Regions from separate parts of the Homo sapiens genome. Here region 1 is linked to region 2. The links come from fine-mapping of genetic effects on gene expression. A gene starts in region 2. The other region holds a variant in brackets. All regions are shown on one strand. Distances are from middle to middle. Region 1 overlaps JAKMIP1 (janus kinase and microtubule interacting protein 1). Region 2 holds the start of C4orf50 (chromosome 4 open reading frame 50).

Evidence for each region. PIP is the estimated chance that this variant, and not a neighbour inherited with it, causes the effect.
Region 1: its variant is fine-mapped to the expression of C4orf50 in whole blood (TOPMed, PIP 0.98).

What each region holds. Positions count from the first base shown.
Region 1 is chr4:6,180,977-6,189,335 of GRCh38, reverse strand. The region is part of intron 1 of JAKMIP1 (janus kinase and microtubule interacting protein 1); the gene reads left to right. Among named protein-coding and RNA genes, the nearest start is that of JAKMIP1, 15 kb to the left of the region's middle. RefSeq lists an enhancer at 8,268-8,359. The variant T/A (reference allele first, on the strand shown) is at 4,899.
Region 2 is chr4:6,013,136-6,021,514 of GRCh38, reverse strand. C4orf50 (chromosome 4 open reading frame 50) reads left to right here and starts at 3,084. Exons shown (of 12, transcript NM_001364689.3): 1 at 3,084-3,370. The coding sequence starts at 3,084.

The DNA.
Region 1 (8,359 bases), 170 kb before region 2:
TCCAGAGATGAGATTTGCGAAGGTTCTGTAAAACTCAAAGTTTCCCTTTCCCTCTTCAGACTGGCATTTCGCTACCTTACGGTGCAGCCTGCTTTTAGTTTAAGGCAGCAGAAAAATGTTAGAATGCTGTTCTTCAGAAACAAACTGCATTCCTGTGGTCCCGGAAGGTCACATTTCTTATTCCATTAGCCTGGTTTTTCTCTTTCTCCCAAGCCATACCCTCCGAATGCACTGTGGAAGACAAACCTTCTTTCTGGATGTTGGCAGGACTGCTTTGTTGGACCAGGGCGCTGGGTGAGTGAGCTCATTATGCCCGGCAGTAATTGGATTTCCTCAGCAAGTCTTGGAGCCTTCCAGGCTCAGGGCTTGACGAGGTTCTTTTTGCAAACCAGATATCTTATTTTGAAAAAGGGCCTGGATGCCCCCACATTGTGCCTAATCTATTTAAACCACTGGGCAGATGGGTGCTTTCCTGACATGATCTATCTCTCCCAGGAAGTACCATAGGCACCCAGGATGAACCAAGTCTGTGAGAGCCTGTGTATTGCAGAGCCCCGGATTTTTCTATAGGGACAAATGCAAGACACTTCAGACTGAAGACACAAACAAGTCTTATTGCTGGATAGGATATTAAAAATTGGGGTGCTCTAGCCAGAAGATGGGGGAGGGATGCAGGTGCCCCAAACCTCAGGTGCCCCAGATTAATAAGTTGCTAATTTGGAATTTCACGATTCATTTGCTCCTGGGTTGTAGCTTCCCTTCATCATTGTGAGTGAGCAGAGGGCTTTGGGGGTATGCTAAGAGGTCAAGTGGCAAGGAGGTTTGGGGTGTATTAAGTCACTCTTAGGTAGGGATGTGGGCTGAACATTTTGGGGTGGTGTCTTATCTGTTTATTGTTGGAAGTGGAGAAAGGACCTCTCCTTATCAGAACCTCCTGTGCAGGTGTCTGTGAGAACAGTGCCACAGCACTTGAAAACGCCATCATTGCGGATTCTGTTCTGAATCCTGACCATCCCTCCCCACCTTAGTCTGAAGCAATGAGCTGTCTCCACACTTCCAGTCACCACATGTCACAAAGGGGATCTCGAAAATACAGTGGCCCCATTCTGCCTCCTTGTAAGAAGGTCAAGCTGTAGACTTCCAATCTTCCAACCCAGGAAGCTGGTAGTGGACATTTTTGTAGATGGTGTTCAGAGACTCTTGGATAAATAATTGATTGGCTCCCATTTACTGGAACCAAAAAGAAAAAAAAATGACAGATTTGAAAATTAGCCATTTAAGAAACTTAACATTGTCAGAAAGGTAATTCTGCTATCTACATTTAAAAGAAATACCTCTTTGAAGTCCTTGCTCCTGACTTACATGGCAAACACGGTGTCTGATTCATTTAGTGCAAAAGAAGGCAGTAATGGAAGAATAAAGGAGCAAAAATGACGTGAGGCATATTGAAAACAAAATAAAATGGAAGACATAAGTCCAACTATATCAATACTATTAAAGATGAATAGGTTAAATAAGCCAGTCAAAAGGTAGATGTTGTCAGGGATAAAATATATGATCCAAGTATATGCTATCTTGGTCCTTTCAGGCTGCTATAACAAAACACCTTAGACTGGATAGCTTATAAACAATAGAAATTTATTTCTCACAGTTCTAGAGGCTGGGAAGTCCAAGATCAAGGTACCGGCAGATTCAGTGTCTGGTGAGGCCCTGCCTCCCCATTGACAGCAGTCTTCTTGCTGTGTTTTCACATGGTGGAAGGGGTGAGCTAGCTCCCTAGGGTTTCTTTTACAAAGGCACTAATCTCATTTATGAGGGCTCGCCCTCGTGACCTAATCACTTGCCAAACGCCTCACCTTCTAATGCTATCATACTGGTGACTAGAAACATATGAATTCTGGGGGTACATAAACATTCAGATCATAGCACTGTCTATAGGAGACACACTTTAGATTCAAGGATACAAATAGATTGAAAGTGAAAGGATGAGAAAAAATATATCAGGTAAATAGCAACCATAAGAAAGCTAAGGGGCTGTACTGATATTAGACAAAATGAGTTTAAAACAAAAAAAGTTACTAGAGATAAAAAGTAACATTTTATAATGACAAGAAGTTCAATACATCAGAAATATATAACAATTATAAACATATTTGCACCTAACAACAGAGCACCAAAATATATGAAGCAAAAACTGACAGAAGTGGGCTGGGCATGGTGGCTCATGCCTGAAATCCTAGCATTTTGAGAGGCTGAGGTGGGCAGATTGCTTGAGCCCAGGAGTTTGAGACCAGCCTGGATAACATGATGAAACTCTGTCTCTACAAAAAAAATACAAAATTAGCCAGGCATGGTGTTGTGTGTCTGTAGTCCCAGCTACTTAGGAGGCTGAGGTGAGAGGATCACCTGAGCCTGGGGAGGTTGAGGCTGCAGTGAGCCGTGATTGCACCACTGCACTCCAGCTTGGGTGACAGAGTGAGAGACTGTCTCAAACAAACAAACAAAAAACCTGACAGAAGTGAAGGGAGAAATAGATAATTCAACAACAATAGTTGAATATGTCAACACCCACTTTCAATAACAGATAGAACAACTCTACAGGAGGTCAACAAGGAAGCAGGGAACTTGAACAACACTGCACACCAATTAGACCTAGTGGAAACCTATAGAACACTAGACCAAGGACATCAGAATAAATATTCTTCTCTAGTGCCCATGAATCATTTTCCAGGATAGACCATATGCTAGGCCCTAATACAACCTCAATAAAATTAAAAGGAGAGAAAACAAGCAAACAAAAAAGCAAAGCACGTTCTGTGACTACAATGCAATGAAGTTAGAAGTCAGTAGCATCAAGCCATGCCTGGCCTGTAGCTGATGTTCAGTTCTTGCCAGCCAGACACCAGAGGCCCCCACTTTTCCCTTCCTGTCTCATCCTCCATCACTCCTGCTTGCCCCTTCACTTGCCTTTGCAAACTGACTACTTGACTACTTCCCTGACTCTAACCACCTCCTTTTCCAACTTCCATGCTTTTGCTCACCATCCCACTTTCCTGGAATGCCCATTCCTTGGACTTCCCCACCCTGCTGTGCCTCCTCAGTCTGCATCCTGCCCATCCGCCTGACCTGCCCCTGGCAAGCTCCAGGGAAGCCTCGTCGGCTGTTCCTGCATTCCCCTCACTTCAGCTGGGAGCTTTCCCTGCTTAGGAGTTGTGTAATTCTCACCACAACTTGTTCGTTCTCCTTCCTGTAGCCCCTAGCCAGACACTGTGTTGAGTGGCTGGCTGTGTCCACTTTCATCTCCATTACTGAATGGAGTGCCCCTCTTCTCCCTCTTATTGTCCAGCACAATTGGAAATGACCTCCACACTGAGGTAATTAAAAAAAAGTCCAGTCTGAACTAGTGTCATATTTAATTGTAGTCTATAAATATTTTCTCAATGTAGTTTTAATAGTTTAGATAGAAAACTTGGCTGTGGGCTGTTAAAGGTATTGTCTAGAACACCTGCCTTAATGAGCCTTAATCAGGAGGGTTTGTAGTGAACAGATCTGAGAAGTGGTTCTCAAAATGAGGTCCTGGGCCAGCAGCAGCCTCACCTGGGAGCAGCTCAGAACCACAGGTCCTCTGGCCCCACCCTGATCTCCTGGATCAGGGACTCTGCAGCTGGGGTCTGGCTTTTGTTTTTTTGAGACGGAGTCTTCCTCTGTCGCTCAGGCTGGAGTGCAGTGGCGTGATCTCAGCTCACTGCAAGCTCCGCCTCCCAGGTTCACGCCATTCTCCTGCCTCAGCCTCCCAAGTAGCTGGGACTACAGGCGTCTGCCACCACGCCCGGCTAATTTTTTGTATTTTTTAGTAGAGATGGGGTTTCACTGTGTTAGCCAGGATGGTCTCGATCTCCTGACCTCATGATCCGCCCACCTCGGCCTCCCAAAGTGCTGGGATTACAGGCGTGAGCCACCGTGCCCGGCCCCTGGGGTCTGGCTTTTAATGAGCCCTCGGAGCAATTCCAATACACTCTCCAGTTTAAGAACTAGGGCAGACAGGGCTGGTTCCCACTTGTATTAGTCAGGGTTCTCGAGAGGGACAGAACTGATAGGATAGATGTATATATGAAAGGAAGTTTATTGGGATAATTGACTCACAAGATCACAAGGTGAAGCCCCACATTAGGCCATCTGCAAGCTGAGGAGCAAGGAAGCCAGTTCGAGTCCCAAAACCTCAAAAGTAAGGAAGCTGACAGTGCAGCCTTCAGTCAGTGGCCCAAGGCCTGAGAGCCCTGGCAAACCACTGGTGGAAGTCCAAGAGGCCAAACGCTGAAGAACTTGGAGTCTGATGTTCGAGGGGAGGAAGCATCCAGCACGGGAGAAAGATGGAGGCCGGAAGACTCAGCAAGTCTGCTCTTTCCAAATTCTGCCTTCTTTATTCTAGCTGTGCTGGCAGCTGATGAGATGGTGCCCACCCACACCGAGGGCAGGTCTGCCTCTCCCAGTCCACTGACTGAAATGTGAATCTCCTTTGGTAAGATCCTCACAGACACACTCAGGAACAATACTTTCTATCCTTCTGTCCAATCGAGTTGACACTCAATATTAACCATCACTCCACTTATCCTGTAGTTATGCATTCTGTTTGGCTGTTTCTAAAATAGTTGACAATTGGTTGCTTCCCTTCGATAGGCACAATCACCCCTGCTCTCTTGCTGAATCTACAGGTGAGCGCGGGGGACCCTTGTTTCCTAGAGTGCAGACAGCAGCTCTTCCCGTCCATATAGCACCCATCCCACACTGGCGCTCAGGGTGGAGGGTGTGCTTGGCTTCTAGTATTTTCTTGAGGAAGAGGGAAGGCACCCTGGCTCTTATACTGCACTTGCCTTGCCCTCTCTCCCTCCTTGTGATGC[T/A]GAGTGTGGGCTGTATTGTCATTTCTAGGAAAGGAGGGAAGGCGGCAGAGTCTGAAAACCAGCAGTGGGCTGGGAGTAGGGAGGCGTGTGTTCGAGGCATGCCCCCTTCCTGGCTGTGGTGCCTGGGAGCGGTTCTTCCTTCCCTAGGGCATTTGTGGAGTGTCTGCTATGTGCTGGGCACCTGGTTTCTGCCTATTGAGAAGGGATGATACTCACAGGACAGTGTGATACACTCACCTCTCTTTGGGTTTGTTTTCCCATCTGCAAAATGAAGTCTTTTCAAAAATAAAATTTTTACATAGCTAAACCACCCTGCTCCAATATACAAAACAGAGAAGTGATGGTTTATTCTCACATTTATCTTATGACTTTAAACTGACAACATTTACCAGTTATAAGGTCAGTCAGTGAGGACAGTGAGGTTGCTCTGATGAATTCAACTTTCAAAACGAAAAGTATAGGGTGACAGTTGCAATCTGAACAGCTGTGGCATCTTGAGTATTAATGGACTTTGTTGTGGTTGTGAAAATATTCTGTTGTGACGATTTGCATACCGCATTTGTGATTCCGTTTTTGGGAGTGACTTGTCTTGCATTCTCAGAGTGCATTTCACTGGAGATGACAGGAGAGGCTGTCCCCCAAGCCCTGCACAAAGCTGAGTGTTCACCTGGCAGCCCAGGTCCCTGCAGTGGGGTCTACCAGGGTTAATATTGGGTTTGCAGCCCATTTGAGTTGGTGTGATGTTTTCACAGTTTAAAATTATTACACCTAGAAAAAAGAAGTCAAGCATCTGTTGCTCCAGACCTTTGACTCCTGGCCCTCCCAAACATCTTCAAGGAGCACCAGGACTCCATGGAAGGTGGTTTGAAAACCAAGTCCCAGCACCCTGAGTACTGAAGTTTCTGTTCCATTTTACTTTCTTTTTTAAATTTATTTATTTATTTATTTATTTATTTATTGAGACAGAGTCTTGCTCTGTCACCCAGGCTGGAGTGCAATGGCATGATCTTGGCTCACTGTAACCTCTGCCTCCCAGGTTCAAGCGACTCTCCTGCCTCGGCCTCCCAAGTAGTTGGTATTACAGGCACCCGCCACCAAGCCCGGCTAATTTTTGTATTTTTAGTACAGACGGAGTTTCACCATGTTGGCCAGACTGGTCTCAAACTCCTGACCTCAGGTGATGCGCCTGCCTCAGCCTCCCAAAGTGCTGGAATTACAGGCGTGAGCCACTGCACCTGGCCCTGTTCCATTTTAGACATCAGCCAGCACCCCTTCGCAGGGCACCTGTATCTGTGTGTCTAGATATCTGTGGTATTGTTATCTGCCTGTATCATGTTTAGCTCTTTGTTCTGTCTCAACCTTCAAGAGTCCTTGTATTACTAAGATGGGACCTGGGAACCTGGAGCCTCCAGGACCATCACTGGCTGAGCTGAGCTGAGCTGAGCGGGAGGAAGGGCTGCCTTGGGAGCTGGCACTGGCCTGACCTCCAAGTCTCTGTGAGCAGACCTTGAGGGACCTGTGCCTTCCTAGGCATCTCCAGGTCATATCTGCTCCCTTCTTCCTCGGGATGGCTGTGGAGTTATAGGAAGTGTTTGGGGAAAGGAGCAGTTGTATCTAGAAACGGTGATATGTTTCCGAAACTCACACTGTCACTCCACTGCTCCAGGGGCTCCCCGCTGGCCCAGGATAAAGCACAGACTCCTTGTCATCACACATGTGGCCTTATCTCCTGATGCTCCTGCTGTTACCTACTGTCTCAGACCATTTGGCTGCCATAGCAGAAATACCATAGACAGAGGGGCTGAAACAACAGAAGCTTATTTCTCACCGTTCTGGAGGCTGGAAGTCTGAGATCATGGTGCCAGACAACTTGGTTCATGGTGAGGCCCCTCTTCCTGGTTCGCAGGAGGCTGCCTTCTTACTGTGCCCTCGCATGGTGGAGAGAGAAAGGAAATAAGCTCTCTTGTGTCCCCCTCCTTTTTTTCTTTTCTTTTCTTTCTTTCTTTCTTTCTTTTTTTTTTTTTTTTCTGAGACAGGGTCTCGCTCTGTTACCCAGGCTGGAGTGCAGTGGTGTAATCACTGTTCATTGCAGCTTTGAGCTCCCGGGCTCAAGTGATCCTCCCACCTCAGCCTCCCAAGTAGCTGGGACTACAAATATGCACCACCACACCTGACTAATTTTTTTAATTTTGTAGAGATGAGGTCTCATTATGTTGCCCAAGCTGGTCTTGAACTGAGCTCAAGCAATCCACCTTCCCCGGCCTCCCAAAGAGCTGGGATTACAGGTGTGAGCCACCGAGCCTGGTTTCCTGTCCCTTCTTATAAGGTCACTAATCTCATCATGAGGGCTTCACCCTGATGACCTAATTACCCACCATAGGGTTTCAATGTATCAATTTGGGGGGACATAAACATTCACTCCATAACACTGTCCCTTACCTTATTGAATCGTCTGCTTTCCCTGAACTTGCCCAGACCCCTCCTCCTCCTGTCTGCACAGGCTCATCTCCTTGGGCATCACCCATCCTCCCAAGGCCAGGGCGGGTCCCTCCCTGTACATCTGTCTGTCACAGCCATGGTCACAGTGTGTGACTGATGCCATTCACAGTCTTCTTCCCCGCTGGCTAGAGCTCTGTGAGGGAAGGGGCTGTGTGAGATTCATGTTTGAGGCTCAGCACAGGGTCTGGCATGGAACAGGCACTAGGATGCTGTTGAATGAATGAATGAATGAATGGAGCTTGCGTTGCTGCTGCTCTCCCTCTCTGATGCCAATTGACTTTTCTTTGACCCCTGCTCCTCCATCTGCATATCCTGATTTCACCCCTTCCACAGCCCACTTTGGATGTCCCTTCCCTCACCACGCTGGCACCCATAGGCCCTGGTCTCCCAGTTATCACCTGGGCTTGTTACAGTGTCTCCTTTGCTTGGCTAGGAGCTCCTCAAGGGATGGGGGAGCCACTGAGACATTGAGGGACTCTGCAAATGTCTGCACCTGAGAAGGACTTCCTTCTGTACTGAGCTGGTGGTAACCTGATAGTGACCTGGTAGTAACCTGGCAGTAAGCTCATCTTGGTTTATGTACTCCAGGCCTGTAATTAGTGTTACTCTTCGAGCCCCTGGTCTCTTCCTCTCTCAGCATGACCCTCCCCTCCACCCTTTCTGGAACTGCTTTCTTGAGAGGAAGCCTAAGAAATGTGAACTGCGTCCACCAGCACATCTCACAAAGCCTTGTGCACACAGGAGGTGTTTGGTAGGTGTCTGTCAAGGAGCGCCCTGTTCAGCATCTAGTCATATCAAGCCCACACGGGGTGGTGAGTATAGAAAGGATGTAGAAACCACAAAAAGAAGTTGCCCTTTGCTTGGAAGTCACTGACTACCCCTTCTTGTTCTTGGTGGTGTGGTTACTTGCTAGTCTCTTGACTCATTTCAGCAGAGGTGAGACAGAAACGACCTGATGGCTG
Region 2 (8,379 bases):
ATTTAAACAGGGTTTGCCAGGGATGTGCCAAATTGGGTGGGAAATAGCGAATGTGCCATTGGGGGGTCCTTTTCCCCCCAGCCCAGTTGTCTGGACTCTTGGGGCTTTCTGTAGGGCCCTTCTCTATGCCCCAGATTCCCGCTCTGAAGTAGGGTGGAGCCCAGGTCTTCACACGGCCAGACCTCCCTCCGTTCCTCCCAGCCTCCCCCCAGCTCTCAGGGGCTGTTGTTCCAGCAGAAACGGGGACTCTTAATTTCTTCCATGGCCTGTGTCCTCCCTGTCACCACCCTCAGTCTCAGGGAACCTCCCTGAGGATCCCAAGGGGGCAGAACCCCATCCTTACATCTGCACATCAATCTGTCCCCTTCTCCTGCCCAGGCCCTACCACTTCTGAGGGGCCTGCAGGCTCAGATCTCCACCCCAGGCTACCACAGATGTTGGTAAACCATGGGCAGGCCACGATTTTCTCTGTTTGACCTTCTTCTTCCCCCAAGAGCCTCCGTCACTTACCTAAAAAGCCTGAGAACACTTCCCCAGGAGAGGCCCTGCCTGCTTCCCTGTCCTTAGGCAAGAAGGAAGGACGTGCCCTCCCTCAGGGCTGCTCCCAAGGAAGGGCTGGAACAGCTCCTCCTCCTTGGTGGCCCTGGGGTAATTTTTCAGTCTGTTGCTATTGCCTTCAGCTGTCACTCAGTCCTCCCACTCTGCACTGGCTCCTCTTGGCTGATGTTCCTGGGAGCTCACGGTGCGGTGCAGGTACAGGACCAGCCACCACCCCCCACCACCGCCCCAGAGCTCAGTCAGTCATCACCACAGTGGGGAGCGGGGACTGCTGTCAGTTTCATTTTGCAAGGGGCCGAGTCATTTTCCTAGGATCATGCGGCAAGTAGGCGTGAAAACTGGACACAGCTGGACAGTGTTGCGTCTGCCCCCTACCCAGCAGACAGCATGCTGTATTTAGTGTGTGCCAGGTGCTCTGCTGAGGGCTTTGCAGGAATCGACTCATTTATTCCTCAACAGCTCTTCACTTAGGCATGATCTTTACCCTCTTTTTTTTGAGAAGTTAAGTAATTTGTCCAAAATCACATCTGAGAAGCGATGGAGACAGGCCTGGAACCCAGGCAGCCTGGCCCCAGCGCCTGGGATCTGAGTGGCTCCACTGCACCCCCATCCCCCGCCTCCAACTGCCCCAGGTCCACGGAAACCCCTTGTGGCCAACAAGACATTGGCCACTGTTGGGAAAATATGATTAAAGACAAAAGCTTCTCCCAGCACAGAAAACCTCATCACAAAGAAAATTTAAAAAAGGTTTATTATTGAATAAGCATTAAACCAAGATATGAGGTGCATTACAGGTAACCCACTGAGAGATTGCAAAGACAGTAAGAAGTTTCACCCTTTTATATGGCCAGGCAGGCACAATCCATGCACACATCCTCTCTCATCCCTGCGGAAAAGGACTCGATAGCGTCATTGTTTCACATGGTTCATCCTAAACTCACCTGACAACGAGGGCAACCCTCTGTGTTCATTAATTTGTTTTATACAAAGGAAAAAAAAGCTTCTCCTGCACCTGGGTTCCACCCTTCTGTCACTTACTGTGACAGGTTTTGCATCTCGGAGCCAGGCGCCTGCCCAATTCGGCTCCTTCCTCCCACTGAACACTAGGGGCGCTGTTTTCCTTCGAATTTACATCTCAAAGAGGCGGTGCCCAGGTCCTTCAGGGAAACATTCCTGAGTCGTAATGCTGGAAAAGGCTTATTTCGCTGTAAAAAGGATTTACACATATTTCAAAGAGACAAAGAAAGAACTTACACATTTTCTAAAGTAGATGCTTTAAGAAAAGGGAGGGAGGACGTCTCTTATTTTTAACAGGGAGACGGAAGCCTCTCATTTTCTATTTGTCTTGGTCCTGACGCCTCTTTGCACCAGGCCTGGCCTGTGGCGCTGCCTCCTCCTACAGGTGCAGCTGCCTCCATCTCGCTCCTGCAAACCCCAGAGTGCTCGATCCTCAAAATGACATTTGACCAGGCACCTCCCTTCTCCCAGGGGCCCACAGAAACGCCGGAGTCCTTGAGTGCCTGAGAGAAGATGGCACCCAGCCTCCTCTGTCCTCACTCCTCACTTCCTCCTTCTGTGTGTCCACGGGGCCAGCTTTGTCTGGTCCTCCTGTTCCCTTCACTTGTCCTGCCTGTCTGTGCGGGTCTGTGGCCTGAGGATGCTCCCCACCTGGGGGAGTCTCCTCCCCACCTCTCTCTGCTGTAATTCCCCATTCCTCCTACGATCTCTTCAGCCTCATGCTCGCTCCCCCTCCTCAGGGTGCCCAAAGGATGCGTTTGCTCCTTTTCTGGGGTCTTGTTGCTCACCTATTACTGTATCTCCTGTGTCAGAACACACACACTCCAGTTTGGGAGTCAGATCCATATTTGAATCCTGATTCTGCTACTTCCCATCCCACCTGTGGGACCCGGATAAGCTCCTTCACCTTCCAGAGCCTCCGTCTGACCATCTGTATAATGGTCATGTTAACGCCCACCTCATAAGGTCACCGGGAGAATTGGACTAGGTAAGGCATGAGAGGCCCCTGCCCTGGATGCAGACGGCACCCAGGGCAGCATAAATTTCCCATCCTCTTCCCCTAGCAAACTCTAGGTCCTTGAAAAATATGTGCTGTGCTCAAAGAGGAGGTGTGGAACCTTATTCATTATGTGGTAAAAAGATAAGCTTCATTGACTACTGGGAGTCTGTAACATCTGATGGCCTTACCTGGAGGTCTTATTTTTCCTCTCTGTGTTCATCACTAGGCATTTCATCTCAAGTGATTTTTCTGCAACTTTTTCTTGCTTTGCGTGAGTTCTGGCATGCTGACTTGTAAAACGAGAGGCTTTCATTCATATTGTATGACGCTTGTGCAGATGAAACCCAAGTCACCCACTCATGAATAATCCACCTGTTCTTGCCCTTCTCAAAGGATATTTTCCTGAACAATCTGAAGTCACAAACACCACCTTGAAATCTCCGGGAAGTCAATGTTGCAAACTCACTTAATTTTATTATTAAGTCTTGCCCCATGAAATATTTCTGAGATGGAGCCAACAGCCAAGGGACGGACTGAGGAGAGTTTCAGCTACGTCATCAGAGCCCCCAGCAGTGAGGGGTTCGACATAATGAACGTTGATGTGAAGATTGACACATCCTGGATATTCCAGGACATGGAAGATAGTGCTGAGGAGCGGGAATGTCTTCAGGAAGAAGCAGCTGGCCGCCCAGACATGGATATGGGTGCGCTCAGGAGGCAGCTGGAGTCCTCCGAGCAGAAGCTGTCAGCAGCAGAGGACAAGTACGTGACATCGGAGTCCGGGCTGAGAAGCAGGTAGCGATGCCATTTTGATCTCTCTGTGTGTATTTCACAAACCGCGGGGCCATCAGAGTGTGTCACCATGGTGTGTTGAATCACACCACACAGCTGGGGAAACTGGCTCACCAAAGACACGTAACCTGCCCACGCAGTCACTTGCCTTCTGCTCCTCCCGCCCTCCTTCTTCTGCTCTGTACCTGCAGATGAGGCTGCCCGGGCTCCTCTGCTCAAAGGCTTCCATTTAGGTGCAGCCAATGGGAGGCCCTGAAACGGAGGGAGGCAGGGAGAAGCCAGGTGTTCTCCCTCTCTTCTTCTCTGGGTGACTGTTCCATGAAAGGGCCCTATGTTCAAAGTGACAGGGAAGTGTAGAAGGAACTGAGAAACCAAGGACAGAGGCAGACAAATCCAGTTGGTCGGTTTGGGGTGATTTTTTTAGGGGAACTGGCAGACAGAAGCATGGTTTTAGGCAGCCGCCAGACAAGTAGATGTCCACACAGCAAACCTTCCATCCCCAACCCAGGGCTTATATCCTGGGGAAAAAGCATGTGTGCTCTGGAAGGCTTGCATAGGTGGCTACAGGCATCACAGCCTATGGTTTCTGCAATGACAAGGGTTGTTTTGGAGGAAACTCACAATGAATAGGTGTTTCTACGTAAACAGAACTATATCAACTCCACATCTTGGAGGCATTCGTGGACTCAGGGTTAGTCAAGAGTCACCTGCTGGATTAGCGTTTAAAATAAAGTCACTCTTGTTCCCACAGTGACATCTCCCACTGTGGCTGTAACTCAGATGTGCTCTCGGCTTCCTCTGCGGTCCCAGCTCCCGCTGGGTGGCCTGGCTGCTCTGCCCTGCCCTGGTAACATCGTCTCTTCCCTGTGTGGCTGTCCAGCCCCAGGGGCAGAAGTGGCTTCCGGCAGTTGCTAATCCAGGCTGCCTGTCTCTGTCTGGCCTTTGGACTCTGCTGTCATCTTTGAAATAGGTTCTCCGCATTCGTTTCTCTCTGTAGAACTTCCTGCTGTGGGCACTGTTTGCCTGATGGAGCTGACCTGGCCTCAAGGTGGGGCGTTTGAATCCAGGTCTTTCTCTAAAGCCCATCTTCTTTCCTGACGATGTCTTGACACCCAGACTGGCAGAACGAGGTTGGGCCTTGTATATAGATCAGCGAAACCCAGCATGGAAGCACAATGCAGTGACAGCGGGGATTGATTCTGACACGTTACTCATATCCCAGCAGCCACGTGCCTTGGATTTTTGCGGGACTTCCCCATTTTCTTGTACTTGCCTTTGATTTAGTAAAGGCAGACCATTGAACGTGTATGCACATGTGATTTACTTTTCTTCCTTTTGGTAAAGTTTTATGCATGAAGAAATTCACAAATCAGAAAAATTCTTCTGTTACTCTATGTGATTGCCCATTCTTTCATTCATTCTGCAACGCACTTACCCTCCGAGAGTCATATACAAAGTTATGTTAGTTTGCCTGGGTTGCCATGACAAAGCACAGTAAGTCCTCACTGAACGTTGTCTATAGGCCCTTGGAAACTGTGACTAAGTGAAGCAACCTACAACAAAACCAATTTGTTTTTGTTTTTTATTTTGCTTTGTTTTGAGATGGAGTCTTACTCTGTCACCCAGGCTGGAGTGAAGTGACATAATCTTGGCTCACTGCAAACCCCACCTCCTGGGTTTAAGCGATTCTCCTGCCTCAGCCTCCCGAGTAGCTGGGACTATAGGCGCCCATCACCACGCCTAGCTAGTTTTTGTATTTTTAGTAGAGACAGTGTTTCACCATGTTGGCCATGCAGGTCTCGAACGTCTGACCTCAAGCGATCTGCCTGCCTTGGCCTCCCAAAGTGTTGGGATTATAGACGTGAGCCACCACACCTGGCCACAAAACTAATTTGACCATAGGCTAATTGATACAAATAAGAGTTAAGTTCCTACAGCATATTTCAGGTCACAAAAACATCACCAAACTTTGAGATAAAGACCCCAAACACTTCTAATGTTAAACATTGAAATAAATGTGAAAGGCTCAAACAAATTTAGATTTAAGAAAGACTCAAAAAAACACAAGTAAGATGATTATTTACCCAATTGTTCCAGTTCAGGGTCACAGGTGGCTGAGGCCTCTCCCGGCAGCTCAGGGTGCAAGGCCTGAACAGGACACTCACACCCACGCGCACACTCACGCAGGCTGGGACTATGTCGACATGTCAAGGATGGTGACATGGGGATATGGACCCAGATTCGCCGGCTGGTCTCTAAGACCAATCACAAGTATCCTTGCGAGAGGGAGACAGAGAGGGTTGAGTCTAGGGATGGCAGTGTGGCCGCCAGTGTGGGATTGCATGCAGCTGGCTCCAAAGATGAAGGCAGGGCCAGGAGCCCAGGAATGCAGCTCTAGACCTGGAGAAGACCAGGAATTGGATTTCCCCTTCAGCCTCGGAGAGGGCTTGGCTCCACTGACAGCTCGACTAGCTCAGGAAGACTGATTCCGACTTCTGGCCGCCAAGCTTGTGGTGACGTGTTACAGCTGCAGGAGGAGACCAGGGTACCCCGAGAAAGCCCACACAGACATGGGGAGAATGGGCAAACTCCACATAGACAGTGGCCCTGGCTGGGAATCTTTTTTTTTCTCATCAACATTATAATGAAATGGCATTATTTGCAGACCTGGGTGACTTAACAAAAACTTATTTTCTCACATTTCTGGATCCCAAAAGCCCAAGCTCGGGGGGTCGGCAGGATTGGTTTCTCCTGAGGCCTCACTCCTTGGCTTGTGGACTCCACCTTCTCCCTGTGTCGTCACATGGTCATCCCTCTGTGTGTGTCTGTGTCCTCCTCTCCTCCTCTTACAAGGACCCCAGTCGGATTGGATCTGGGCCCACGCTCATGACTTTCTTTCAACTTAATTGCCTCTTTGAAAGGGCTTATCTCCAAATATAATCACATTCTAAGGAACTTGGGGGTTAGGCCTTCAACACAGGATGCAGGGATGTGTTGAGCCCATAACAGAAGTCCTGGGTGCTGAGAGTTGGGGAAGGCAGGGCCCTGGGCTGAGAGACTAGCAGCGTAGGCCCATACAGGGTTGTACATTCAAATCTTCTAGAAAGGTTGGTGGTGGAAACCAGAAGATCAATGGACCCCAGGAAGACAGGCAGGGAACTCCAACCAAAGGAGACCCCTCCATGGGGGAGGGAAAGACAGAGATTCCCAGGGGGACACCATGAGCCATAGGGAGGAGGGGCCTCTGTGACTGGGCCTGTGGGGGGATGTGGGCTCGAGTCCTCTGTTCTCTTTAAAGATGGGGTACACCATCTTGCAGAAGAGGGGTCAGGGGAGGAGAAAAGGGAGCTGGCACAGGGCTGGGCCCTCCCATACTTGCCCCATCTTGGCTCCTTTGGACCCTGTGATGCATGGGGTGACATCATCTCCTTTGACAGATGAGTAAACTGAGGCTGAGGGATGAAATACTAAGTGATCCAGGGCTGCTAAAAGCTGAGGCCAGGGTCTGAAAGCACAATTCTGAGCACAGATTTCAGGTGAATGTTGCAATGTGTTTGGGTCTAGCTGGGGCAGGGGAAAGGCTGGATAGTATGTCTTGGGTTCACATTAATTAAAGAGTTGAAGCACAAAAGTATTTCTTCTCAAAATAATATAACAGCTTTGCTAGAAATGTGAGGAAGAAAATCCCACTCCCATCTTCATAACACTATCATTTTGCATATTTATTCCCCATCTAAATGCAGTAAAATTAATAACAGCTAAGCACTTACCGAGTACTTGTTCAGTACCAAGCCACTGTTCACAGGCTTGACAAGTATTAACATAATTAACCCTTAAAACAATACTAGGCCGGCCCGGTTGCTCGCGTCTGTAATCCCAGCACTTTGGGAGGCCCAGGCGGGCTGATCACCTGAGGTCGGGAGTTCAAGACCAGCCTGACCAACATGGAGAAACCCTGTCTCTACTAAAAATACAAAATTAGCCAGGCGTGGTGGCACATGCCTGTAATCCCAGCTACTCGGGAGGCTGAGGCAGGAGAATCGCTTGAACCCCAGAAGCAGAGGTTGTGGTGAGCCGAGATCACGCCATTGCACTCCAGCCTGGGCAACAAACGCAAAACTCCATCTCAAAAAAAAAAAAAACACACAACTTAAAAACACAGTAAAAGTATCATCCACACTTGTCACTGGTTTAATCAGGGAACAGTGTTCCTTCACTGTCTATGTCATATTCGTGAGTGTATTAGCTTCCCGTGGTTGCTGTAACACGTCACCACAAGCTTGGTGGCCAGAAGTCGGAATCAGTCTTCCTGAGCTAGTCGAGCTGTCGGTGGAGCCAAGCCCTCTCCGAGGCTGGAGGGGAAATCCATTTCCTGGTCTTCTCCAGGTCTAGAGCTGCATTCCTGGGTTCCTGGTCCCGCCTCCATCTTTGGACCCAGCTGCATGCAATCGCGTGTTGGTGTCCACAGGGCCGTCCCTAAGTTCAACCCTCTCTCAAGGACACTTGTGATTGGTCTTAGAGACCAGCAGGTGAATCCGGATCCATATCCCCATCTCACCATCCTTGACTTAATCCTATCTGCAGTCTCTCTTGCATTTTAAGGTAACATTCATAGGTTCCAGGGATTAGGGCCTGGATGAACTTGGGGCCAAAATTCACCCTGCCAAAGTGAAATTCGTCATTTTCTGCTCCGTTTAAGATTAGGAATCGTATCAGAATTAAATACTGTTCTCATATTTATTGTTACAGATTGGTCTCAAAACTAGAAAGAAAGGCTTTTGTTTTTCCTAGCAAATCTCCCCATATTGTATAACTCATCGGAAAGTGCTCAGCCTGACTCTGGCTAACTGGAGCTGCTCCTGTGGTCCAGTTTGGAAGGATCTTGGTTATGATCCTCACGAGAGAGCACACTCTGGTCTGCCACCCTTGAGACCTTTCCTCAGGGCATGATAACTGGAATAGGAGAGGGACTCTTGGCCTTATCATTAATAATAATGCATCATATAATTTAA